Linked DNA regions of Homo sapiens. The protein of the gene in region 3 purifies or fractionates together with the protein of the main gene of each other region. This does not show direct contact. Each region holds a gene or a part of one and is shown on either strand. Other genes may lie near its edges. The genes, in order: PHLDA1, THADA, TRIM66, MCM3AP, TRIML1, BICRA and CRYBG3.

Region 1 (4,060 bases), on a different chromosome or scaffold from region 3:
AAAAGCAAAACAGTTGGTTTCTCTGATCAACATCATTTTCAGTATGAAAACAAAAGTTATGACTCCTAGACCTTTGAAATATTTACAAATTGTACTTTAAACAACGAGATTTTTCAGTGTGCTTCTAAAACAAAGTAAAGGGATCAGAAAATGTGGTTCAAGTCAAGTGTGCAAAGCTCTCGAAGAAAGGTCCTGCAGCCTGGACAGGAGTACAAATATTCTCTTATACAAGTTAAATGTACTCTTTTCCTCCACAACATTTTTGAAATGAAACAGCAAATGCATTTATACTCACAAATCAGTCAAAAGGCCTCTTCTCCTTATTAAGCCCTTTACACACAGATGATAAAAGCAAGGTTTTCCTACAATAGATGTGGCCCTACCACATATTCAAGATACAATCATCCTACCATCAGTTAGGTTATGCTTTAAATATTTTGAAATCAGGTATCCTTAACTACTGATTTCCTTTTAGAAACTATCTTGAGTGTTAGATTTTCATAATTACACCATTTTTAACTTTTAGCTTTTTAAACTTCTAGACAAACTATATGTTTAAGCAAAAACAAAAATAAAAATCCTCAAAAAAAGTAATATCAGAGTTTTAATTTCAACCAGCTGGCACAACAATGAAAGTGTCAGACTTTCTGAAAGTACTCGAGAAATAATGAATAAATTCTTAATGTTTTCCCCTCCACCGCCCTTTTTTATTCTCCAAGATTAGGAATTACTACGGATTAGGTTTTTGAAAATAAAGTTTCCTTTTTGGAAAATGGTCTACATTCAGAAATGTCTTAGAACAAGCATTTAAAAAAAAACTAATAAATAATCATAAATCAAAATACATTAAAATAAAATTACAGTACATCATCGCTCCTAGAAAATTCACCATACAAGACGATCCTTTCAAAGGTTCATAAATAAAAGTCTTCTTGACTCGAAATCGTTTCCTGCATCGTGATGAAAAGTATGCAGAAAACTAAGAAGAATCGCAAGTTTTCAGTAGGGTGATGTCCAAACTACTTGATCTGGTGCGGGGCGGAGAGACTGTTTTGCTTTTGATCCAAGTGAAGACAATAGAAATGTGCTCGTCCCACTTCCTCAAGTCCTCAAAACCTGGAAAGAAATGACACCGAGTGAAGTAGGTGGCTAAGAACCCTCCGAGACCAGTTCTGTTCGGGCCAGTCCGCCTGACAAAGCGGGCTCAGAAAGACACCGTGGTGTTTCCCTCAACTGCCCAAACATATAGTCAAGTGGGGCTGGGGGACGCACCACGGGACAAGGACGGTCGTGATGGGCGCGGGCGCGGGCGCGGTCCGCGAGGCCCCCTGCCTGGCCCGGATCTCCCCAGCCTCCCCTCTCTGCCCAGCTCTCCTGGCCCCAGCTTGTTTCTGTTTCTTCCATTGCCCCAGAAACTTGGTATGAGTTTTGATTTCTCCATACAGGAGCCGAACCTGTGAACAAGCTTCCTACTCCTCCCAACTCACTACCCCCGAGACCCACTCCTCGGGAGCGCGAGTGCCGGGACCTTACCTTGTCTTGCCCGGGAGCTGCCCCTTTCAGGCAGAGTTGGAGGTGCTGCGGAGAAGCCGGTGCCCGTGCGGCTGCGAGTGCGGCTGTGGGTGTGGGTGCGGTATTTGGTGCGGATGCGGGTGCGGGTGAGGGTGTGGGTGCGAGTGAGGATGAGAGTGTGGATGTGGATGTGGATGCGGATACGGGTGGAGCTGCTGGGGCTGAGGCTTGGGTTGGGGCTGAGGCTGGGGTTGTGATTGGGGCTGGGGTTGCGGCTGAGGCTGAGGCTGGGGTTGGGGCTGGAGCTGCGGCTGCGGCTGCGGCTGCGAGGGGGGCTGCTGCTGGACCAGGTGCTGCTGCTTCTGCCGCGTGGATTTGACCGCCAGGATGGCCTGACGATTCTTGTACTGCACCATCTGCAGCGTGATCTCGGCGTTCCAGCCCTGGTCTTGCGGGCACCGAAAGTCGATCTCCTTGCCCTCTGCCATCACCACAGTGAAGTACATGTACTTGCCCTTGCGCTCCACACAGTCCACGGTCTTCATGTTGGAGAAGTGCAGTTCCTTGAGCTTGACCGGCGGCTCGAGGCTGGCGACAGCGGGGCCACTGGGTTGGGACGGCTCGGCCGGCCCCTGCCCGGGCTGTTGTTGCTGCTGCTGCTGCTGCTGTTGCTGCTGCTGCTGCTGGTGTTGCAGCTGCTTGGGCGGGATAAGCAGCAGCCCTTCCTCGGTGAGGATGCAACACTTTTTCTTCCAGAGCTGCAACAACCCGTCGCTGCGCTTCTCCAGCACGCCCTCCTTCAGCGCTTTGCAGCCGCTACTCTCCAGCATCCTCCCAGCATAAGAGGGGCCGCCGCTTGGCTCGGCCTCTCCGTTTCCAGCCGCGCGGGCCGGGGGCAGCAGCAGCAGCCTCGCGCCGTCCTCGCCCCAGCGGCTCCCACGGCCGCCTGCCCGGAGCGCGCAGAGGAGGCTAACACGCAGGAGGCAGAGCGGCGGCGGCGGCTCTGGGTCCCGGCAGAGGGACAGCCGCGTCCTGATGCGCCACAAGGTCCCGGAGCTCCGAGCTGCCGGGCCTCTGCCGTCCTCTTGCGAGCGCTCACTGAAGGGCACTGGCCGGGCCCCCTCGCGGCGCTTTTGAATGGGCCATCTTCCCCACCCCCGAGTGACACCCAGCGGAAAAGGCGGCTCCTGGCGCCCGCACCGCGGGGGAAAGCCCAGCTCCAAGAGGCGCTCGGCAGCCGGCGCACGCCTCATTAACTTGGGGCCTTTCCAAAGCCCGCTGCGTCCACGCCCTCCAGCGTCTCTTGCTCCGCCTCTCGCCGCCCACTTGCTTCCGCGCTCGTTCCCCTGGAAGGCGACCCGGACCCGAGCCCCGGAAACTCCTCTCCTCTACCCAGGGCGATCGCCCAAGGAGCCCTGGCTGCCTGACTACTGCCGACGCTCACAGGGCGCTGCGAGGCCATCCCCCGCGTCCCGCTTCTCCCCGGCCCGCGGGACTCTCTGCTAACAGCCTCAGAAAGTGAGGACGGGGGCGCGGAGGCGGGGGCAGCCTCCAGGCAGTGCTGCCTCTCGGTTCTTGGGAATTAGCCCGGGGGATTCGCGCTGGGCTCCGAGAGCCCGCAGAACCAGCGTCGTGTCCTGGGCGAGCTGGGAGGCCGGGGCCGAGTCCCGCGAGTCCCGCGAGTGTGCCTCCCCCGGACGCCTAGGTAAACAACTGAGCGCACAGAGGCCGAGAGGACATCGTGTCTTCCCACGCATATTCGCTCACGGTCACTAAGTAGCTCTTCTTGGAAAGAGGGCGATTGTTAAAGCAATAGTGCGACTGTCGGGCTTGCCACGGGTGGAGAGAGGCGGACCCACGTCAGGTCGCATCTCGCCTGCTTTTCTCGACCCCGACCGCAGGCGCTAACCCGTCTTCGGCTTTCTTCTTGACCCGTACGGTTTGCAACGTCTCTTAAAACAGTAACTCAACTCTCTACAAACCGGGGTAATATCCGGTGCTGAGATCCCACACTGCAAGGCGCAGTTCCAAACGTCTGGTCGGCCTCGCAGGTCCCTCTTTCCAAGGCCTAGCCAGATCTTGGTTTTGGAATCTCATTTATCTGTGACCTGGGGAATGCAATACCCCCAGCTCCCTCCTACTCCTACATTTAAACAATGCCTATAGAAGCCGCTTCCTGGGAAGTAAGGCATAACCGAGACCTAGCCTCCCGGTAGGGAAGTTCATCCGTTTAGTAAACAGCCCCAACTACGTGCGGACCCTCACGGGGATACGAAGAATTCAACCAGGGCTGGACAAGTCAGAGTGGGCCAAGGTAAGAGTTACGGCTGCTACTGTGCCCACGTTGGAACAGATAGATTAGTTCATCTGCTAGTTGTGTGGCAAGAGCAAAGAATTCAAGAGGGGAAGAGAAAGTGAGAGGAGCTTAGAGAGCTAAGCAAGAATCGAATCCTTTGTGTGTCATGGTAAGAAATTCGAACTTAATACCAAGGTAGTCAGAACAAAGGACAACTTTTATACACGAGGGCGTCCTGAATATTCATCTAAG
Region 2 (2,844 bases), on a different chromosome or scaffold from region 3:
TTGAATAATTAGGATGGAATGTGTAGGTCACTGCAGGACTTAACACATGCAGACAATAAAAATAAATTATTTGTGCAAAGTTGATCCTGAATTCTCCCAGGATCCAACATTTGGAACATATTTCTGCTTTGCTAAAATGGAACAAAATTCACAAATCTGACCAAATGGGCTGTTTGCCAACTAATCCAGCCCCTACATAAAGCCAGAAAAGGGGAGAGGGGAGGGATCATGTGTATGTGCTAAAATCCAACTCTCTGTAGTCATTTCACAGAGAATGCAGGGCGGCTATGGCAGGGCATTAGAGGCCCTGGGGGATGAAAAAGGCTCATTCAGGCCTGCAGGTGGCCTGCACCTGGGGACAGAGTAAATCTGCAACGGAGTCGCCTCACTTCCTACAGTAGCAGCAATAAAATAGGCTGCCCTGAATGAGTGAACTGAAGAAAAGTTTCTCTGTAAGGAGTGACAGACGACTGGACTCACAGAAGTAGGGGAGGCATGAATGGGATAAAATTTTTGAATTTATGTTCAACATGTTTCCTGCAGATTTAGTGGAGGAAAAATCCACACATACCCCCATCCCAATCCCCCAGATTTTCTTCAACATGCCGCTTCTGTTCTTGGAAGAGTTAACTGCCTCGATTCTGCATAAGAGTCCCAAACACTGAGAACTAGGGTGTCTTCCCCTTCCTTTCCTTCCAAAAAGGCCAGCAGCCTCAAGCAAGCCAAAGTCCTTTCCTCTTGAATGCGTAGTCTTGTGAACTCCACTGTCTTCACAAACTCAGCAGCTGGTGGAAGCTCTCTGAAGAACTGAGACAGGAGGTGGCACTGCTCTGACACCATCCTTTGAAGGTGACAGAGCATCTCAGGGCTTGGGGGACGCCAGCCGGACTTTGAGAGGAGACAGAAGAGGTGCTTGCAGAGGTATTTCACAAAGATCAGGGTCTCGGCCCAAAAGTTGACTTCTGCTTTTTCAAACAGGTAGTCTTCTTCCACCTAAATCAGATGAAAAAGCCGAAAGTCAGTCTTACAGGGAATGGTGACAAGCCCCAGTCCAGACCAAGCAGTACCCTGCCAGATGCAAGAGGGGTTTCCCTTCCCCCACCTGACAGAGGGTGCACTCTTGCCTGTCAACATCCATGTACACACACCACTTGCAGCCTTGAAGGTCACCTTCTATTTTCACTCACTGTATTTCTCCACCAGAGAGGAATTTTTTCCCCAGACTTAACATGACCTTGGATAAAGATGTGTTTGTGGTTCAAAGTCAAGATACTTTGGGGGATGGATGCTGAAAAGGGGACTTCAACAAGGGAGTGGGCTCTAGAGTTTAAGGTGCAGCTGGAAATTGGAGAGGAGGGAGGAAAGGTCATCTCTGCAGCAGGCCAGAGAGGAAGGAATCTCCAAACACAGGACACTAGGCTGTGTCCTGTTTCTATAACACTGTGATTCTCAAGGTCCTTTTGTCAGACACTTACCATGTCTCCAAATTTCTCATAAAGAGGGACAATGCGTTTTGAACCCTTGGCCTGCTGGGGATGCCAAGAAGGCCAGCTGAGTCAGATGCTGGTGGCGATCAATTTCAGTTCTCAGGATGCTTTTGCTGCTTGTCTTTGTCCTCAGTTTCCCTATCTGTGACTGCACCCACCCTGGAGGGGGCTAATAATAGTTTTCTTCAAGCAGGAAGTTCCCAGCAAAGATCCTAATTCTCTGAAAATGCTTCACCCTCAGACCTAACTTTGGGAAGCCCCAGGCTAACTCCAATACTGACTAACAAGCAGTCTCCATAATAAAACTCTCCGCATCCAGGGGCTTCTTTTTTTCTTTTCTTTTCTTTTCTTTTTTTTTTGAGATGGAGTCTTGCTCTGTTGCCCAGGCTGGAGTGCAGTGGTGCAATCTCGGCTCACTGCAACCTCCGCCTCCCAGGTTCACGCCATTCTCCTGCCTCAGCCTCCCGAGTAGCTGGGACTACAGGCACCCACCACCATGCCCGGCTAATTTTTTGTATTTTTAGTAGAGACGGGGTTTCACCGTGTTAGCCAGGATGGTCTCGATCTCCTGACCTCATGATCCGCCTGCCTTGGCCTCCCAAAGTGCTGGGATTACAAGCATGAGCCGCTGTGCCCGGCCAGGGGCTTCTTTCCGAGTTCTCTCCCCTGGCTAAGCTGGAGGCTGACCATCAGCACCCCAGAAGTCAGCCTAAGAGTGTCCCCGTGTCCTCGGCAGCACCCAGTGGGTGACTTTCCTAGTGGTTCCTGCTCTGTGTCTAAGCATGCAAAAGCCCAGCTGAGGCTGTAGGTGCTGCATCTAGCGGGTTTAGGACACTCCAACCCTGCCTCCTACTCCCCTGACACCCCGGGATCACCTGATGCATGCTCTCCACACAGGCCACGAGGTCATCACTCTCTCCCAACAGCCATCCCAGCAGGATGGGCAGTCCAGGGGCCAACTGGTCCCACTGCTGGAGCAGATCACACAGGACGGCCAGGGCCAGGGCCAGAGCGATGGAGGCATCCACCTGGCAGAAGGCAAACTCTGCAAAGACAGGAGAAAGGTGAGCAATGAATATACTGCTCAGGGCCGACCCCAGGGCAGCCTGCAGGACCCTGGGAACAATAAAGGCCTCAGGTAAAATCGCTGCCACCAGCCTGGCAGGGAAGCTGGTAGGGTGGGCTCACTGGAGACGATTAATCACCTTCTGAATCCTGCTATTTATACTGTTAGAATGAGTCATAGGCCTGAACCCACTGTTTCCATGCCCCCTAACTCAGTGTGGACAGAAGCAGTTCCATCTGCAGGATTAGAGAGTTATCTCCCCTCTGCTCCTCCAGTGTCACCAGAAGGATC
Region 3 (2,563 bases):
TCTGAAGAAAACTAAAAATAATAAAAATAAGAAGCAGGCTGGGCGTGGTGGCTCACGCCTGTAATTCCAGCACTTTGGGAGGCTGAGGCGGGCAGATCACAAGGTCAAGAGATTGAGACCATCCTGGCCAACATGGTGAAACTCCACCTCTACTAAAAATACAAAAAATTAGCTGGGCGTGGTGGTGCGCACCTGTAGTCCCAGCTACTTGGGAGCCTGAGGCAGGAGGATCGCTTGAACCTGGAAGGCGGAGGTTGCAGTGAGCCGAGATCGCGCCACTGCACTCCAGCCTGGCGACAGGGTGAGACTCCCGTCTCAAAAAACAAAACAAAAAATAATAAGAAGAAGAAAAAGCAGAGAGGTGAGTTCTTCCCTAGAGAGAAAGGCTTCCCAGGCTATTCTTCCCCACCTTGAGTTCTTATGATGTAGAGATCTAGGGGCAAGAAGACCATGTGATAGGTTCAACTATCTTCGCTGAAAAACACTCCAGGACGCAATTCTTGGTAAAGAAAAGTGCTGTTTTTTATTTGTTCTTGAATGTATAGGTTCTTTTAAAATCAGCTATACTTCCCTTTAAAATATCCTCCCTCATGCCCCAACCGCTTAGAATCCAATAGCCACTCCTAACAAGGGCCTAGGAGGAACTCATCCTACATAGCCAAGAAAGGGGTACAGCTTGAGGAATGGGCATATGGCTCAGGAAGCAGCACCAGCTGATAAGAACTTTCCCCAAAGCAGCTCTGTTTGGCTTGTGAGTCTCCTTTCCCTGCCCTGGTCTGGACTCCCCCAGCTGTGTCCCACCCCTGGAATTCCCCTGTTCCTTATGTGGCCTGATCTTGAGAGTTAAAATCATAATTAACATCTTTACAGCTGGAGAGCTGAGAGATCACTGTTCTCAGCCATTCTCCCACCACAACTTTATAGATGAGGAAACTGTATCCAAGGTTACACAGCTCATAATGGAAAGAGCCAAAAATTTTGGTGTTCAGACTCTCAAATCAGATATCTTTCTAGTATATACCTCCTTACCTCCAAGAAAGCAACCAATAGCTGCCTCCAACTCCAGAAACAACTGGAGCAAGCAGGTGGTGGTGATCAGCACAGGTGGGAAAGGCCCTGATATAAGGAGTCATGCTGACTCCAGCTGAGCCCCAGCAAGGGAGCAGCCACCGCGCTCCCTAGTCTCCCTCCATCCGAATGTTATCAGCAGCAGGCACCCACCCTGCCAGGTTCTCCTCCTGGTTAGCAGCACTGACATGCACGGAAACACATCTTACCACAATCCCAGGCTCCTTCCCAACTACAGCAGGCTCTAACTGGTGCAGGATCATGGTGAGGAGCTGCCCACCAGCCTGGTAATCCAGTTTAGCCAGACTGCGGCCTGGATGCTGTAAAACCTAATCCACACCCTTGGGCTGACTTAGATGGGGTCTCTTAGCAAACAGGCTAAAACCTCTGTGTTGTCTGGGAGAGACAGAGGGAAGGACTCACAGATGCTGTCCTCCCAGCAGGAGCTCATAAACATGGTTGGCATGAGGAGAACTGAGTTCAGGAAAAGGAAGGGACTCAGGAAATAGAGAGACAGACAGAGGAAGCAGGAGCAGCTGTGATTCTTCCTCCCTACCCAACTCCTGAAAAGAAGAGACCACAGACAGCCACAGACATTTCCCCCATCTAGGTTTCAAGGACAGCTCAGCCTGTGTGGGCTGAGAGGTAAGAGGAGAGAATCCAGAGACTTGTTTTTCTGGATTCTCTGAGAATCCAGAGACTTGTGGTGTCATAAAAGCTAAGGGAGGAGGTTGTTTCACTGAGGGTTGGTGGGTGGTGTGAAATGCTGCGGAGAGGTCAAGACAGCTGAGCACTGAAAGGTATTCATTCTATTTGGCAACTGGGCAGTCACTGGTGACTTTTATGAAAAAGTATAGAGGGCTGAAGAACAGCTGAGGAAGAATCAGTTTAAAAAGGATCTTTTTAAAAGTAACTTGGTTAACAAGGAAAATGTGTAAGGGGTAACAGACTCTGAGAAATGCTGTTTTAATCTTGTGGAGAACTTGTTTGCAGGCTGTGTGGAGGTAACCAGTGGAGACAGAGGCTGGAGACTCCAGGGAGTGGGAGCAGTGGAGTAAGCGAGGGAGCAGTCTTGGAGGACATACAACAGGATTCAAGATATAGAGAATTAAATAGGAGCAAGAATGGAGGGGTTGGGGAGAGTTACAGACACAGATGAATGAGAGGGGAGAGAGGAACAGCAGGCAAGGAAGCTCTTGCTTTAGGGGCTGTCTTCTGTGAAGTAGACAGTGAGCTCAGTCATTTGTGGAGGACAAAGATGGAGGCATGGGTGGGGAAAAAAAAAGGGATCACAACAAGTTAAAGAATTTCCAGTCAACACTGAGAGCTCAACTGAGGCTGCCAACTGTGAATCTGTCATGCATAGCAGCCCAGGAGGTGGAAGCAGCAAATATGATGATGCCGAAAATGGAGAATGGCTGATAGTTTCAGCAAAATTGAAGGGGATACGCCTGGCGCAGTGGCTCACGCCTGTAATCCCAGCACTTTGGGAGGC
Region 4 (2,989 bases), on a different chromosome or scaffold from region 3:
CTGAACTCAAGTGATGTGCACACCTCAGCCTCCCAAAGTGCTGGGATTATAGGCATGAGTCACCACACCCAGCCTTAAGCCTTTGCTTTTTACTAAGAATATAACTAAGTTATGACATCAACTGAGAAGCAGAAATGTACTTATTAAAAATTTAACAACTTCCTATGATAAAGCTTAATTTAAAAAAAAAAACTAGGCTGGGCTCGGTGGCTCATGCCTGTAATCCCAACACTTTGGGAGGCCGAGGCGGGCAGATCACCTGAGGTCAGGAGTTCAAGATCAGCCTGATCAACATGGTGAAACCCCGTCTCTACTAAAAATACAAAAATTAGCCAGGCATGGTGACACGTGCCTGTAATCCCAGCTACTTGGGAGGCTGAGGCAGGAGAACTGCCTGAACCCGGGAGGCGGAGGTTGCAGTGAGCCAGATCACGCCATTGCACTCCAGCCAGGGCAACAAGAGCAAAACTCCATCTCAAAAAAAAAAAAAAAAAAATTAGAGAAACCACTTCCCTTTAATTTATAAATCCAATTCCAATTTATATTTAATGAAAAAGGTGGTATTAATCCAAAAACAACTGCTTCGATGTGTTACTTAACATTACTTGTAATTGTCTTGTTTGGCTTATCTTATTTAATTTACTTTGGTTTTATGCATCTATAATTAATTCTTCTGACATTTTCCAAATGAGTGGATTGCTGCTTATAGCTTAAAATTAACTCAAAATAATATCCCACTGCCACCTAACATACTCTAGAGCTGTCTACTTCCATATACCGGTCTTTTCAAGAAAAACAATCTTGGCCAGGTGCAGTGGCTCATGCCTGTAATCCCAGCACTTTGGGAGGCCAAGGCAGGTGGATCACCTGAGGTCAGGAGTTCAAGACCAGCCTGGCCAACATGGTGAAACTGCGTCTCTACTAAAAATACAAAAATCAGCCAGGCATGGTGATGGGTACCTGTAGTCCCAGCTACTTGGGAGGCTGGGGCAGGAGAACTGCTTGAACCTGGGAGGTGGAGGTTGCAGTGAGTCGAGATTGTGCCACTGCACTCTAGCCTGGGCAACAGAGCGAGACTCTATCTAATAAAAAGGAAAAAAAAATCTCATCCCAAACCACTTAAATTATAGAGACTGATTTTAGTAATCGGACACATTCATTCACCCTTCCAAAACATATTCATTAAGCCTCCTCCAGATGCTAGGCATCATTCTAGGTACAAGGAATATTGCACTGAAACAAAACAGAGGCCCTGCCCTAAGCAATTTATACTTTAGTGAGGAGAGACAGACAAGGAACACATAACAAGAGAAACATGGTTTGAAGATGAGAAAGACAAAGCAGAGCCATGGAAACAAGAAGGTCGGAGATGGGCAAGCAGGGCCTAACAGAAGCAGACATTTGAGTAGAGATCTGAAGTGAGTACAAGATCAGCCATGGGGATGCTGGGGAGAATGGAGGGGCTGGACAGTCCTAGGCAAAAGGAACAGCAAACTCAGAGGCCCAACTGTGAACTGCCTACCATGCTCAAGGAAGGAGCGGAGGTCAGAGAGGAAATGGGGGGCAGATCACTCAGGGCCCTGGCCACCCCTGCAAAGTTTGCCTTTGATTGCAGGTGAAAGAGGGAAACCACTGAGAGGCTGTAAGCAAGCAAGTGACACGACCTCCATCTTAACTCACTTGAAAGGCACCCACCAGGTCTACCAAGACTAAACTGCAGCCTACTGTAATAATCCAGAAGGAAGATGATAGTGGCTTGAGCCACGTGGTGGCCATGGAAGTCATAACAAGTGGTCCAATTCTGAATGTATTTTCAATAGAGCCAATAGGATATGTGAATGGGCTGATGTGAGGGGATGATTCCAAGGCACCTGATCTAGGCAGCTGGAAGGATGGAGCCGCCATCAACAGAGATGACCACCAAAGGAAGGGGTTGGTTGGAAGAAAGCCGGGAACTGGATTTGGGATATGTTAACTTTGCAGTGGCTACCAGACATCCAATAGGTGTCTAATGAAGATTTCAAGGAAGCAGTAGCATGTTCAAGTGTGGAGTTCAGAGGTTTGAGATACAAATTTGGAGCTGTCAGAATAGTGATGTTACTTAAAAATCCATGAAACTGGATGAAATTTCTGAGGAGTAGGTACAGACGATGCAGAGGAGAGGTTGAGAGAATGAATCCAGGGGGCAGCTGGGGGATGAGGAGGAACCAGCAGGGCAGGAGGGGGACCACGGACATCCTAGGAGCAAGGAGGGGAGGATCAAGTATGGGATGCTACCAAGGACTGGGATTCACGGTCATGTTCAACCCTGGGCCTTCATCCCCATGGGAAAGAAGGCTGAAGAAGTGAGTATCACAAGCGTTTTTGAGGAGTTTTACCATTAAGAGGGCAGAAACATGAAGTGGTGGCTAAAGAGGGAAGTGGGACCAAGACAGGGAGGCATGTTTCATGTCTGTGTGCTGCTGATGGGCACCACCTAATATGGGGAGGGGTGGTAGCACGAGAGAGATACTCATTGAATGAATGTCCTTGGGTAGGTGGGAGATGAGATCCCAGCCCAGGGAAGGGCTGACTGACTACGAGCTGCATGGTTCGTTTCCAGCAACAAGAGGCGTCAGGAAGGGGATATAGGGAGGATGCTGGATGTGGCTGGGAGGGCAGGGAAGGCAGAGGACAACCTGTGGAAGGTCCCTTATTCCTGATTCTACTCAGTAAAATGGTAAACATGGCCATCAAATGAAAGCAAAGGAAAGGTATGCATGGGAGGGAGGGAAGTGGGCAATGTAGAGGAGGGGCAGCCCCAGCTCCTGTCCATTCACAGCATGGGATGATCCACCAATGCCTCAGGCTCCCAAGGGCAGGGTGCCTGTGGCCAGCCATAGTGTTCAGCACTCACCATCTTCTGAGCAGACTTAACCACATGAATTTCCCAGAAAAACTTAACACTGACTTTCAATAATAAATAATAAATGAAATTCACTTCAATATA
Region 5 (3,990 bases), on a different chromosome or scaffold from region 3:
GATAAGAAAACATCCAACATCCTGTTGGAGGTAAGTGGGAAAGAAGTAGCAGTTGGAGCCTTGAAAGTCAGAAACCAATGAACGGAACAGCCTGAGTAATGGACCCGACTCGTGGAAGGCTGCCAAGCTGGAGAGTGAGGGGACGGAGACAGAAATATGGCGTGATGAGTTCGTGGGAAGGTCAAACTCGCTGGCCTTTGAGGAAGAGCTTTTGAGGTGCAACTTCCTGGCATGCAGTGAGCAGAAGGCAGGCCAGGACAGGAGCTGACTCCCGAGCAGGGGACACAGTGAATTTGTGGCATTTGTTACCAATCTCGGAGTTCACTGTGCACAGTCTCCACACTAGGCATTTACTTTTTCATATGTCCGAAAAAATGTCTGCACACTTCATTTCTGTCCAGTAAGAACTGATAATCAGGGATTTGAAGGGGCCTAGTTTGGAAATTTTCAATGGGTGAAAATAAGTGAGCAAAATTACATTTATACTAAAATATAATTCTTTCCATCTGCTCCATAGTGGGATAGCCTCTTGAGGCAACTTCCAATTAGAATGTCATTTTAGATGCTTTCCAAGATGGCAGATGGGTGAGTACTAGGGTGTGCAGGGAAGATCAATAAACAGCTCTGGCAATTCATCGTGCGCCTAACACCAAGGAATACTTCAGTGGAAGAGCTCTCATTTTGTTGGGATGAATAAAATTAAATAAAAGTACACAGTACCCAATAAAGGAACAAAAGCTTAGGCTTTGGTCAAGCAGAACAAAAGGGGCTAATGAGAAAAGGACTATGTATTACAGTTTTCTTCTCTCAGTTCTCAACTAGGTTTTATTAGTGGAGTTCCCAAAAGATTTGGACCAAATTTCCAATTCAGATATTATTAGAGATCATCAAAACTCAAATCTCTTTACTGGTTTACACCAAATCACCCAAGCTTCCAGCCTAAAACCCACATGCTCACATGGTTCCACAGTGCTGTTTATGTACAATAACCAGTTCTCAAAATGGTAATCCTGTTAGAAGCCAGAATCCTCAGCCTCTAGCATGTGTGCTTTTCACAGAGATAAGTCTCAAAGTTTGGGGTTGGTGAGGAGCCCAGTATACAGGAGTTCCACATTAAGTCATAATTGGCTTTGTGTTGGACAGTGTATGTCAGCTGGTGAAATCAGGCACAGAAGAGATAAGGGTTTCTTGTCATAACAACATAGGAACAGGTCACCCGCGTGTTACTCAAAACTGTAGGACGGCAGTGAGGGCTTTGCTAATCCCAGAACAGAGGTGTAACCTGGCTGCATATCCAGCCTCGAGAAAATGTCTACAGCAGATCTGATGGAGAACCTCAGGGAGGAACTCACCTGTTTCATCTGCTTAGACTATTTCAGCAGCCCAGTGACCACCGAGTGTGGGCACAGCTTTTGTCTGGTGTGTCTCCTCAGGAGCTGGGAGGAACATAACACACCTTTATCTTGTCCTGAGTGCTGGAGGACCTTGGAGGGCCCGCATTTCCAGTCAAACGAGCGTCTGGGGAGGCTGGCCAGCATCGCCAGGCAGCTCCGGTCCCAGGTGCTGCAGAGCGAGGATGAGCAGGGCAGCTACGGGAGGATGCCCACCACTGCCAAGGCGCTCTCCGATGACGAGCAGGGTGGAAGCGCCTTCGTAGCCCAGAGCCATGGTGCAAACAGAGTGCATCTCTCCAGCGAGGCTGAGGAGCATCACAGAGTAAGACAGCTGCTCAGCATGAACCCCACGACTCATCGCAGCTAACTCCGTTAGCTTTCCTGACGTTTCCTAACGTCCTCTGTGGGGGACAGTCACGAGGGCCCATCTGAGCACCACATCACAAACTGGCGTGGGTCCAGTTTACACCCTTTTTTTTCCCTTTTTTTGTTTTTGAGACAGAGTTTTGCTCTGTTGCCCAGGCTGGAGTGCAGCAGTGCGATCTCAGTCACTGCAACCTCCGCCTCCCAGGTTCACGCCATTCTCCTGCCTCAGCCTCCCCAGTAGCTGGGACTACAGTCACCCACCACCACGCCCGGCTAATTTTTTGTATTTTTAATAGAGACGGGGTTTCACCATGTTGGCCAGGCTGGTCTTGAACTCCTGACCTCAGGTGATCCGCCTGCCTCGGCCTCCCAAAGTGCTGGGATTACAGGCGTGAGGCGCCGCACCCAGCCTGCCCTTTGTTTTAGAGGCCTAGGACTGCGCAGTTACTGGTCTTCAAAGCCCCTTCATGACCTGGGACTCTGCTCATTTGCCAGAAAGGGTTTGTTTCTATTGCAGGAGAAACTCCAGGAAATCCTGAATCTTTTGCGTGTAAGGAGAAAGGAAGCTCAGGCTGTACTAACCCATGAGAAGGAGAGAGTGAAACTGTGCCAGGTCGGTGTCTGTCTGACTTTTGCTGCTTGTATATGACCCCATAAGGGGGACTAAAGGGAAATTTAGTGAAATATCAGGAAAAAAAAAAGACAAATTTTTCCAGTCTCACCTCTAAAATATGCAGTTTCCTTGCATTGGGCTGCCTTCTTCTGAGCGTCCTCGTGGGAGTCTCAAGGCTCAGCTGCAATTCGCCCCCTCTAGGAGCCTCCTTTGCATAACTAGACAACGCTGTGGCTTCCTCTATGATGGCTCTGGTAGAATTATTTAAAACACAAGTGATACTTATAGACATGTAACATGAGACGGAAAGCGATTTTAAAAAGAAATATCTCAAAAACATGGAGGGGAAAATGCAAATTAAAAAAAATAAAGAGACAGAGATATAAAAGCAAAATAGTGGTTTAAATGATACCTGACAAGTCCTCAAGGTTGGTCACGGACTTGGATTTGAGCTCTCCAGCAGTCAAAGCAAAGGACTAAATATCAAATTATATATTTTTTAAAACCATGTATCTGATTCTCCCAATAGACTTTGAAATCTGTTTTTTTTTTTTTTTTTTTGGAGATGGAGTCTCTCTCTGTCGCCCAGGCTGGAGTGCAGTGGCGCGATCCCGGCTCACTGCAACCTCCACCTCCCGGGTTCAAGTGATTCTCCTGCCTCAGCCTTCTGAGTAGCTGGGATTACAGACGTGTGCCACCATGCCCAGCTAATTTTGTATATTTGTGGAGATGGGGTTTTACCATGTTAGCCAGGCTGATCTCGAACTCCCGACCTCAGGTAATCCACCTGTCTCGGTCTCCCAAAGTGCTGGGATTACAGGTGTGAGCCACCGTGCTTGGCCGTAGACTTTGAATTCTTAAGTGAGAGTATTTGCCATGTATGTTTCTGTTCCTTTTTGGTTATCTGACACCTACTTTCATTGAATAAATATTTGTTGAATAAATGAACACACATTTTTCATAATTTTTCTTAATTTTGTTTTATTTGTATCATAGTCCTGATCACTACTTGTCATATTTCTTACTCATTTTTGGTTTTCTCCACTAGAACGACCGCCTCCTGGGAATGGAGATTTTGGTTTTGTTTACTATTGTATCTATAGCGCACATACCTCCGAAAACATCAACCTCTACACCCAGCGCATCAACAGATTAAATGTATTATATGTTGGATTTCAGGAATTGTTGCCATGAAACTCTAGGACTTGGCCAGGCATGGTGGCCCACACCTGTAATCCCAGCACTTTGGGAGGCTGAGGAGGGTGGGTCACCCGGTCAAGAGACTTGAGACAATCCTGACCAACATGGTGAAACCCCATCTTTACTAAAAATACAAAAATTAGCTGGGCGTGGTGGCACACTCCTAGACTATAGTCCCAGCTACTCAGGAGGCTGAGGCAGGAGAATCATTTGAACTCAGGAGGCAGAGGTTGCAGTGAGCCGAGATTGCGCCACTGCACTTCAGACTGGCGACAGAGTGAGACTCCATCTCAAAAAAAAAAAAAAAAAGAAAGAAAGAAACTCTAGGACTTGTAAGGATTAAAAATCTACAGACAAGGGCATTTCTCTTACTAACTTTATCTCGTGTGTGTGTGTGTGTGTGTGTGTGTGTGTGTG
Region 6 (4,040 bases), on a different chromosome or scaffold from region 3:
AGGCCATTGCACTCCAGCCTGGGCAACACAGCGAGACTCTGTCTCAAAAAAAAAAAAAAATTAAATGCCACCAGTTGACATTCCTCCCCTGTGCCCACACTGCGTACCCGGCCTGCTGAATGATAAATATGAATGACACGTTTGGATAATACTTTTACCCACCTCCAGGTCACTTAAAGGAACTATAATTACCCCCACTTGCAGATGAGAAAACAGGACCAGCAGTTAAATGACCTGCCTAAGGTTACAGAGTGGATCATGCCAAGGAGAACAGGCAAGAAAGTTCTCCGCTAGCTGCATCAAAGGGCCATGGTGTGGCAAAGCGACAGCGGGTCACAGGGCATAGGAACAACCAGACATCAACATTCCCAAACAGTTCAGCTTCTCTCTTCTCTACTTCAGGGCTGAGTAGCAGCAAATGGGGCCAAGTCCCCCGCTCAGGTAGAGAAGGGAGAAGATGACAGTGGGGCCAGCTCCCAGGTACCCCGAGCCCATCACTGGCCAGGCCTGGGGCTCCCCCTCCCCCACTCCTCACACACCTTCAGTTCTCAGTTCCTGCAGACAATTCTCCATTCCAGCCACAAGTGAAATGATCCTGCCCTCAGCCCAACTTCGAGGTGCATCTTACCCCTTCTCAAAACCAGCTCCCAGGGAAAAAAAAAATCTGGCCGCTTCTTCTAAATATTATCTACATTTCCGAACCAGGTCCACTGAAGTCAGGGGGACAAAATGCCAAAGGGTGGGACAGAAGAAGGGCTTAACAGTTTTGAGCCAAGCTGGAAAAACTCCAGGAGGTTACAAATTGGGGCTCTGTGTGACCCAGGGCTGTGTGACCCTGGGCAAGCTTCTTAACCTCTCTGAGCCTCCATGAACCTGTCTGGAAAACGGGAATGTCTGTCCCGTCTCTATTTCCTCCTTGGACTGTGGCCAGCGTGTAATGTACTTAGCAGCAGCGGAATAAAGCTCCCTAGTTTGATATTGTTATTAATATTTCCATCTTGAGCGGGGAGCTATGAGGGAAGGCAAGGGAGGTCAACATGTCCCAAAAGTCCTACCAGTGCATGGGAAGGGGGTGCTTCCTGAGTTGTCTTCCCATTTTCTCATGACCCAGGGCAGGTCAGAGTTGACAATACCCCCCACACCCACCCCAGGTGCTGGGAGAGGTTAAAAGCACAGAGAGCTTATCATGAATCTCAGGCCTTGATGCCTTGGATGTTTCTAGTTTCCCTTTCAAGTGCCCTCCGTAAAGAGGTGTAAGAGAAAGGCACCCCTAGATCTGTATTATACTATGGGGTGGGTAGGTAGGTGTGTGTGTGGGGGGGGGGTGACAAAAGGGGACGATGGTCAGGACATGGGCCTGGGCACAGACTGCAGCCCACCAGGATGGGGACACCAGAGAGCTAGGACCTGTCACCTGGGCCTCCCCGGGAGAGCTGACACCGCGGCCTCTGACCCCACCTCCCGGGAAGTTCAGCTGCTCAGAACCACAAAGCAAAACAAAGGGGCGCGGAGAGGAAGAAGCCGCAGTGCCTCCCAATCACCGCCGGCGCCCGAGCCCGAGCCTAGCTCTCCCGCGGCTCCTTGCCCGGTCCTCCCGGCTGGCCGCGCACCAAGGCCCAAGCAGCCCCTGGTCCCTCGTCTCCCCGCGGCCGCCCGTGACAGGAGTCGGGGAAGCAGACGAGGGGCAGCCAGGGATGGGAAAACCAGATGGCTCCATCCCTCCTCCCTCCTCCTCCATCCCTCCCTCCGGGTGCCCGCGGCCTGGCTGCCCTCCGCAGGGGCCCGGGGAGGCCGCAGGCCCAGCTCGTCCGGGCTCACCCCGGGGAAAGGGCTGCCTTTGTCTAAAGGTCACCACCCGAGCGCGGTGCCCCGGCCGGGCCTGGTGCCTCCCGTTCCCAGGCCGAGGGGTAGGAGATGGGGGGCCGCCCCGAACCTCGGGAAGTGACAGGAGGCGCTCACCCCCCCCACCCCCGTAACGGCCCCCTCCGGGATGAGCCTCAGCTGGGGGTGGGGGAGGGGGTCACCTCCCTCTATTGCCGGGGGCTGGGGGTCAAGTCAACTCCTTTCATTGTTTAGGGGCGGTGCGAAGGGGGGAGCCCCGGTGGCCTCCTTCCCCATCCATCCCTCCCCAGCTTTCCAGGGCCCCCCACTGTCCGCGACACCCACGGGAGGGATTTGGGGAGGGGGCGCAGGGGCCGAGCGAGGCGGGGAGATGCAGGCTCTCCGCCTCCGGCCGGGAGATCACCGCCCGCTGCCCGGTGGCCTTCGCCTTCCCCGAAAGGCGGGGAGCGGGGCGAGGGGAGGGGGCCGGGACGGGGAGGGGGTCTCCGCGCCCCTCCCCCCGTGGAACGTTAGGTCTCCTCTCTCCGCCGCTCCATTGTATCCCCGGCAGCCGGCGGGAGGGCCGGGGAGGCACTGGGCGCCGGGTCTGGGCAGGGAAGCCGGTTGGGGGGGGGTCCCCATAGGATCGGGGCGGCGGCGGTGGTGGAAGAGACGCGGGGCTGGGGGTGCCGGTGGCGGTGGGCGCCGAGCAGGAAAAAAAAAAAAAAAAAAAAAAGGAGGCAGCGGGCGCTGCGCCCCGGCTGGGGGGCTGAGTGTGAGAGTGTCGCGGGGGTGGGTTCGGCCCCGGCTCCGGCTCCCCCCACACACACCCTCGCCGCCAACCCCCACTCCCCCCTCGCTTTTGCGCCCTGTCACAGCCCCGACTCGCAGGTAGAGAGAGTTAAGAGATTTAAAGAGAAATTGCTACATTGTGAGAAACTCACCCTGATGTTTGAGCAGCCGTCGGCGCGGGGTCTCCGAGACGGCCCCGCACGGGCTGCAAAGGGAGGACCCAGAAGGGGCCGGCCGGCCGGGCCGGTCAGCGCACTGCCTGATCGCATGGCGGCCGCTCGGCAGCCGCTGCCGGGCCCCCGCCGCCGCCCCGCGCCCAGGCCCGCGCGCCCCGGGCCCGCGCCCGTTCCGGGGAGCGCCCCTCGGGTATGCAAAAAAAAAAAAAATTTTTTTTAATTAAATGCAAACGGAAAAAAAAAAAAAAAAACCTCTCAGGTTTTGTGTTCCGCCCCCCACCCCCTTCCTCCTCCTCCTCCTCCTCCTCTTCCCTCCGCCCTCGCCGGAGGAGGGGCTTCAGGAATCCCCGCCCCGCGTCCGGGCGGACCAGCCCCGGCCCCGCCAGGCCGAGCGGCGGGACCCGGAGCCAATGGGAGGCTGCGGACGTCCGGGGACTGGGCCCTCCGCGCCGGCGCCGCCCCCGCCCCCAGCCCCAGTCCCGGGGGTTCAGGGGCGCGCCTGCTCGAGCTCGGGTGTAGTTTGTCGACTGCCTCGAGCCCTGATCCGGATGCTGGGGCGCGGGGGAGCTGAAGGGATCCGCGCTCCCAGACCGCCGGTCCGGCTGGGGAGGGGGCGCCGTGCGTCCTGGGCGCGTCCCCTGAGGCGGAGGACGGTCGTCCGGCGGGAGGACGCGTCCAGGGGGAGCGCCGCAGGTCCGAAAAGATAGCGGGAGTCGAGGATGAAGGAAATGGAGGGGATGGAGGGGAGTTCCCCCCGGAGGTGGGACCGCGCCGGAGCCCAGAGTTGGAGCCTGACAGGGTGGAAGGCGGCGGGGACTTCGGGGTGACAGGCCGGGACCCCAGGCGTGGCTCGATCACTCACCCTAGCTGGTCTCCGTCGAGCCACGGCGGCGCCGGGGAGGCGGGTCGGGCCTGCCTCGGAGCCTGTCCCCGGCCGCTCTGGCCGCGCTGATGGGATTCCCAGAAGCCCCAGGACGCCGCGGTGGTGTCGGGTCCGTTTCCGCCCCACCAGGCCGTAAACGCCCTGCTGGCGGGACACGGATTCACGCGTTGCCCTTAGCGAGCGCTTGGTGAGCGCCCACTGTGTGCGCTGCGCAGTGCTGGGGGCCCAGTGGGGACACAGAGCCCCCGGACCTGCCCTCCCGATGCTTGCAGCCCAGGGAGATTTATACTTTGTTTTAGTCCCTTCTGCCTCCCCAGTGCCCTAGAAAAGCTCGTGCACACAGTAGGTGAATGCGGGTTGAATAAATG
Region 7 (3,500 bases), on a different chromosome or scaffold from region 3:
GTCACAGACCATTTTGTCTACTTAAATTTTTTAAGCTGGGATATCTTCCACTATTAGCATATAACCCTATTTTTTGAAACAATGATATATGCTAATTTAAGTACAGGCGAACAGTAAAGAAAAAATAAAAGTGCATATACCTTGGAAATAAAAATACTTTCTGAACATAGTACCACAATATATTTCTATGTCTATATTTATGTATGTATGCTCTTTATAGATGTGGTCTATACGAAACTATACAGTTGCATAAAAAACAATAGTGCAACAATTCCAAATTATACTTCTAATTTTCTTGTTGCTGAATAACACAGGACACATGTCCCATTTTATTATATGAAGACGAGATTACACCATATGATTTAAGACATGAATGCTGACCTGGGTAGCCTAAACACTGGACAGATAAATTCTGGCTCCAGCATGTCCATGGGTCATGGTCCATAATAAATAGATAGGGTTGCCCCTCATTTTTAGACCATACAAAGATTCCTTCACTTCTTGAGCAAGTCAGCTATACAAACAACTTTAACTATGTGGCCTTCACATTCCTCAGCATCCCACAAATTCTGAACTCATTTTCAAAGCTATGCTTCATTCAACTGAAGCATTCACCCAAACTTGCCAAATCTATCCTGCTAATAATGTAGTTACAGAATGGTATTGATTGTATAGATTAGGTCTTGCAACTTACTGGCTTAAGCACTAAAAACAGATTGTATTTTATGCCATAGTAAATAAAAAGAACAATTAAGTTATAACACACTAATAATAATGTTTCAAAATCTTCTGTCGAAAAGTAGAGGAAGGAGAATATGACTTCAATAAAAAATAGAAAAAAAAGCATTAACAGCAAGAAGACACATTTAATTTAAGAAAATATGCTATAAAATTTTAAGAAACTTCTTACCAGCCCCTTACAACTTTTATTAGAACTCCATTTGGAAAAGACCATGATGTAGCATCAGGAATATTACAGTAGACTTCTTGTTTATATGTACTTTCATGGAGATCATAGATAACCATCTGCAACACAGTAAATAGCAGTAAGTAGTTACAATAACTAATTTTTAGAATGTATTTTAAATTCTAAAATGTCCTAGAACATAGAAATAAATATCCTAAATATACAAAAGCAAATGTTACTTTAGATGTTAAATCCTTGAATAAAATCATTATCTAAGTCACTTATATTAAATTCCTCAAGCCTGAAAGTTACCTAATGTTTAACCTTTATCTTAGTTTGAGAAAGTTATCCTTACCTTCCCAGGTCTTGGGTTACATCTCAGAGTTTGTTTGTCAACATTCTGAAATAATAAAAGTGGAAAAGTAAGCTTTAAGAAACATCGGTGAAAAGATGCATAATTCATTTTCTTAGCAGTCTTGTATCCAATTTATCACATATTTAGTTAGTGATCATTATGAGCAAGGTGCTTCTCTCGATACAAGTGATATAAATACAAATATATAGGAAATTAACACATTGTCTCTGCCCTCAAGAAGTACATAGCTTAGAATGGGTCAAACAGATGATCATATTTGCATAGCTCTACTAAGCCAGGGGACTAAGTTACATTCACAGGTAAAATACAAGGAAAACACTAGGTTATGGAAATGGCACCAGCATGGAGGTGAGGGCATACAGAGGTTCAAAGAGGCATTTCTGAGGAAGTAGTATTGAGGGACCTTGAAAAACAATATTTCAGTGAGTGGAAAATGTGGCAGGTTGTGATGGGATAGTGAATAAAGAAATTCTAGGAAGAGAACCATCCTGGGGAAAAGTGTACTGGTAGGAAACACAGAGTGTGCACCCAGAGTGTGGGGAGACAAGGCTGGCAAAACAGAACTTGGGAGCCTTATAATGCAGAGTTAAGAGGTGCCACTTGATTTGGTAGGCAGTGGAGAACCATGAAAGAAATATTTCTTCAAATCCTATCATTTCTTTTAAAATGACTTTGCTTTGCAAGGTTTTGGTTGGTCTTTGAGTATTACTATTTGCCATGAAGATTGTTTAAGGTAAAAATACAGGCCTTGGACATCCTGTATCTTTATCTTGAAAGTACCATGATCTTGGAAATGCCAGAAAGGAAAGTCCCATATTTAATAAGCATTCTACATTAAATATTTAAATATTTCTAAATCAAAGAAAACTGTAATTGAATTTAAAACATTTTCCAGCTATAAAGTTTTCAGTTCTTTTGTTTGATTTAGGTTGCTCACTGCCCTGCGTTGCATGAACAACATGAGTTGTTGTAGTGCGAGGCTGCTGTCAAATACTTAAAAATTTTACTTAACAGAAAGATTTTTCATGAAACTAATAAGCTAAATGCAAAGTGACAATTTTCCCACATACAGTACCTTGAGAAATTTGGAATGTTGTCACTTAATTTAGTTTGAAAAATATTAGCAAAAGACTTCAAAATAACCTTGCTTCAGTATTATGCTTTTTAAATTCTGACCAAGCAATTTTTTTTTCTAAGTAGTCCAGCTAAAATACATGAGTTATGATATATTTCAACCAAAGAATCTGATATTTTTATGAAACAAACTTTATACAACTTCTACAACCTCAAAACATTTTCTTTTTTGCTTTGTTTGTTTGAGACGGAGTCTCACTCTATAGCCCAGACTGGAGTGCACTGGTGCGATCTTGGCTCACTGCAACCTCTACCTCCCAGGTTCAAGCCATTCTCTGCCTCAGCCTCCCCAGTAGCTAGGATTACAGGCGCCCGCCACCATGCCCGGCTAATTATTTTTTATTTTTAGTAGAGACAAGGTTTCACCATCTTGGCCAGGCTGGTCTTGAACTCCTGACCTCGTGATCCACCTGCCTCGGCCTCCCAAAGTGCCAGGATTACAGGCATGAGCCACCATGCTTGGCCAAAACATTGACTTTTCTTAATAAGCCTTTAGATAATTTCGTGACCCAAAGCTTTAATAACTATTATTAATACAATAAACAAAATAACTTACCTCTATAAATGGGCTCAATCTGCCTGGGCTGTCTTGAACACGGAAATATTTTGACACTGGTTCCTGAAAAATTCCACCAAATCTGGCTCCTTTTTCTGAGGAATGACTTTGGGAAGTCTGCAGATACTGATGATAAGCACTCTTTAAAGAAGAATGTAGTTTAGAAGTAAGGTCAGATTTCTGGAGAAACGAGGTCTTTTCTGGCCACAGACCAACTTGCAGATTGGAGGTAGTAGGTTCATTTGGCATCACATATGAATTCTTAGAAATTCCAACGCTCTCCTGGTCATCAGGGTAAAATGTGATGGAAGGATCTGGCAACTGGAAGGTAACACGCTCCCCACTTCCAGCTCTCAGATCTCCTTTATGCAATACTGCTGCCTCCTCCTCCTCTTCTTCCTCATCAGCTGCCTCTCTGTCATCTTCATCAAAATTCATCTTTAAACGTTCTGACACTGACTGGAGAAGGGATAAAACAGAAGAGGACTGGTTTTCACTGTCTCTTGATTTCCTGGGGCCATGGTGAC

The links.
Region 1: the proteins of TRIM66 (region 3) and PHLDA1 purify together in Homo sapiens (affinity purification with mass spectrometry, with the first as the bait; one large-scale study listed by BioGRID). This does not show direct contact.
Region 2: the proteins of TRIM66 (region 3) and THADA purify together in Homo sapiens (affinity purification with mass spectrometry, with the first as the bait; one large-scale study listed by BioGRID). This does not show direct contact.
Region 4: the proteins of TRIM66 (region 3) and MCM3AP purify together in Homo sapiens (affinity purification with mass spectrometry, with the first as the bait; one large-scale study listed by BioGRID). This does not show direct contact.
Region 5: the proteins of TRIM66 (region 3) and TRIML1 purify together in Homo sapiens (affinity purification with mass spectrometry, with the first as the bait; one large-scale study listed by BioGRID). This does not show direct contact.
Region 6: the proteins of TRIM66 (region 3) and BICRA purify together in Homo sapiens (affinity purification with mass spectrometry, with the first as the bait; one large-scale study listed by BioGRID). This does not show direct contact.
Region 7: the proteins of TRIM66 (region 3) and CRYBG3 purify together in Homo sapiens (affinity purification with mass spectrometry, with the first as the bait; one large-scale study listed by BioGRID). This does not show direct contact.

The regions. Positions count from the first base shown.
Region 1 is NC_000012.12:76,028,977-76,033,036, forward strand, and holds the start of PHLDA1 (pleckstrin homology-like domain family A member 1), read right to left. Parts: upstream 2,801-4,060; 5' UTR 2,766-2,800; coding exon 1,560-2,765; 3' UTR 1,534-1,559; exon of another isoform or gene 1,518-1,533; intron 1,117-1,517; 3' UTR 1-1,116. UniProt on the Homo sapiens protein: Seems to be involved in regulation of apoptosis. May be involved in detachment-mediated programmed cell death. May mediate apoptosis during neuronal development. May be involved in regulation of anti-apoptotic effects of IGF1.
Region 2 is NC_000002.12:43,230,351-43,233,194, forward strand, and holds the end of THADA (tRNA (32-2'-O)-methyltransferase regulator THADA), read right to left. Parts: intron 2,533-2,844; coding exon 2,363-2,532; intron 994-2,362; coding exon 598-993; 3' UTR 501-597; downstream 1-500. UniProt on the Homo sapiens protein: Together with methyltransferase FTSJ1, methylates the 2'-O-ribose of nucleotides at position 32 of the anticodon loop of substrate tRNAs.
Region 3 is NC_000011.10:8,611,540-8,614,102, forward strand, and holds the end of TRIM66 (tripartite motif-containing protein 66), read right to left. Parts: 3' UTR 501-2,563; downstream 1-500. UniProt on the Homo sapiens protein: May function as transcription repressor; The repressive effects are mediated, at least in part, by recruitment of deacetylase activity. May play a role as negative regulator of postmeiotic genes acting through CBX3 complex formation and centromere association.
Region 4 is NC_000021.9:46,237,623-46,240,611, forward strand, and holds part of MCM3AP (germinal-center associated nuclear protein), read right to left. Parts: intron 1-2,989.
Region 5 is NC_000004.12:188,138,251-188,142,240, forward strand, and holds the start of TRIML1 (probable E3 ubiquitin-protein ligase TRIML1), read left to right. Parts: upstream 1-1,190; 5' UTR 1,191-1,308; coding exon 1,309-1,716; intron 1,717-2,277; coding exon 2,278-2,373; intron 2,374-3,990.
Region 6 is NC_000019.10:47,607,894-47,611,933, reverse strand, and holds the start of BICRA (BRD4-interacting chromatin-remodeling complex-associated protein), read right to left. Parts: upstream 2,801-4,040; 5' UTR 2,766-2,800; intron 1-2,765. UniProt on the Homo sapiens protein: Component of SWI/SNF chromatin remodeling subcomplex GBAF that carries out key enzymatic activities, changing chromatin structure by altering DNA-histone contacts within a nucleosome in an ATP-dependent manner.
Region 7 is NC_000003.12:97,877,511-97,881,010, reverse strand, and holds part of CRYBG3 (very large A-kinase anchor protein), read right to left. Parts: coding exon 2,974-3,500; intron 1,308-2,973; coding exon 1,263-1,307; intron 1,027-1,262; coding exon 911-1,026; intron 1-910.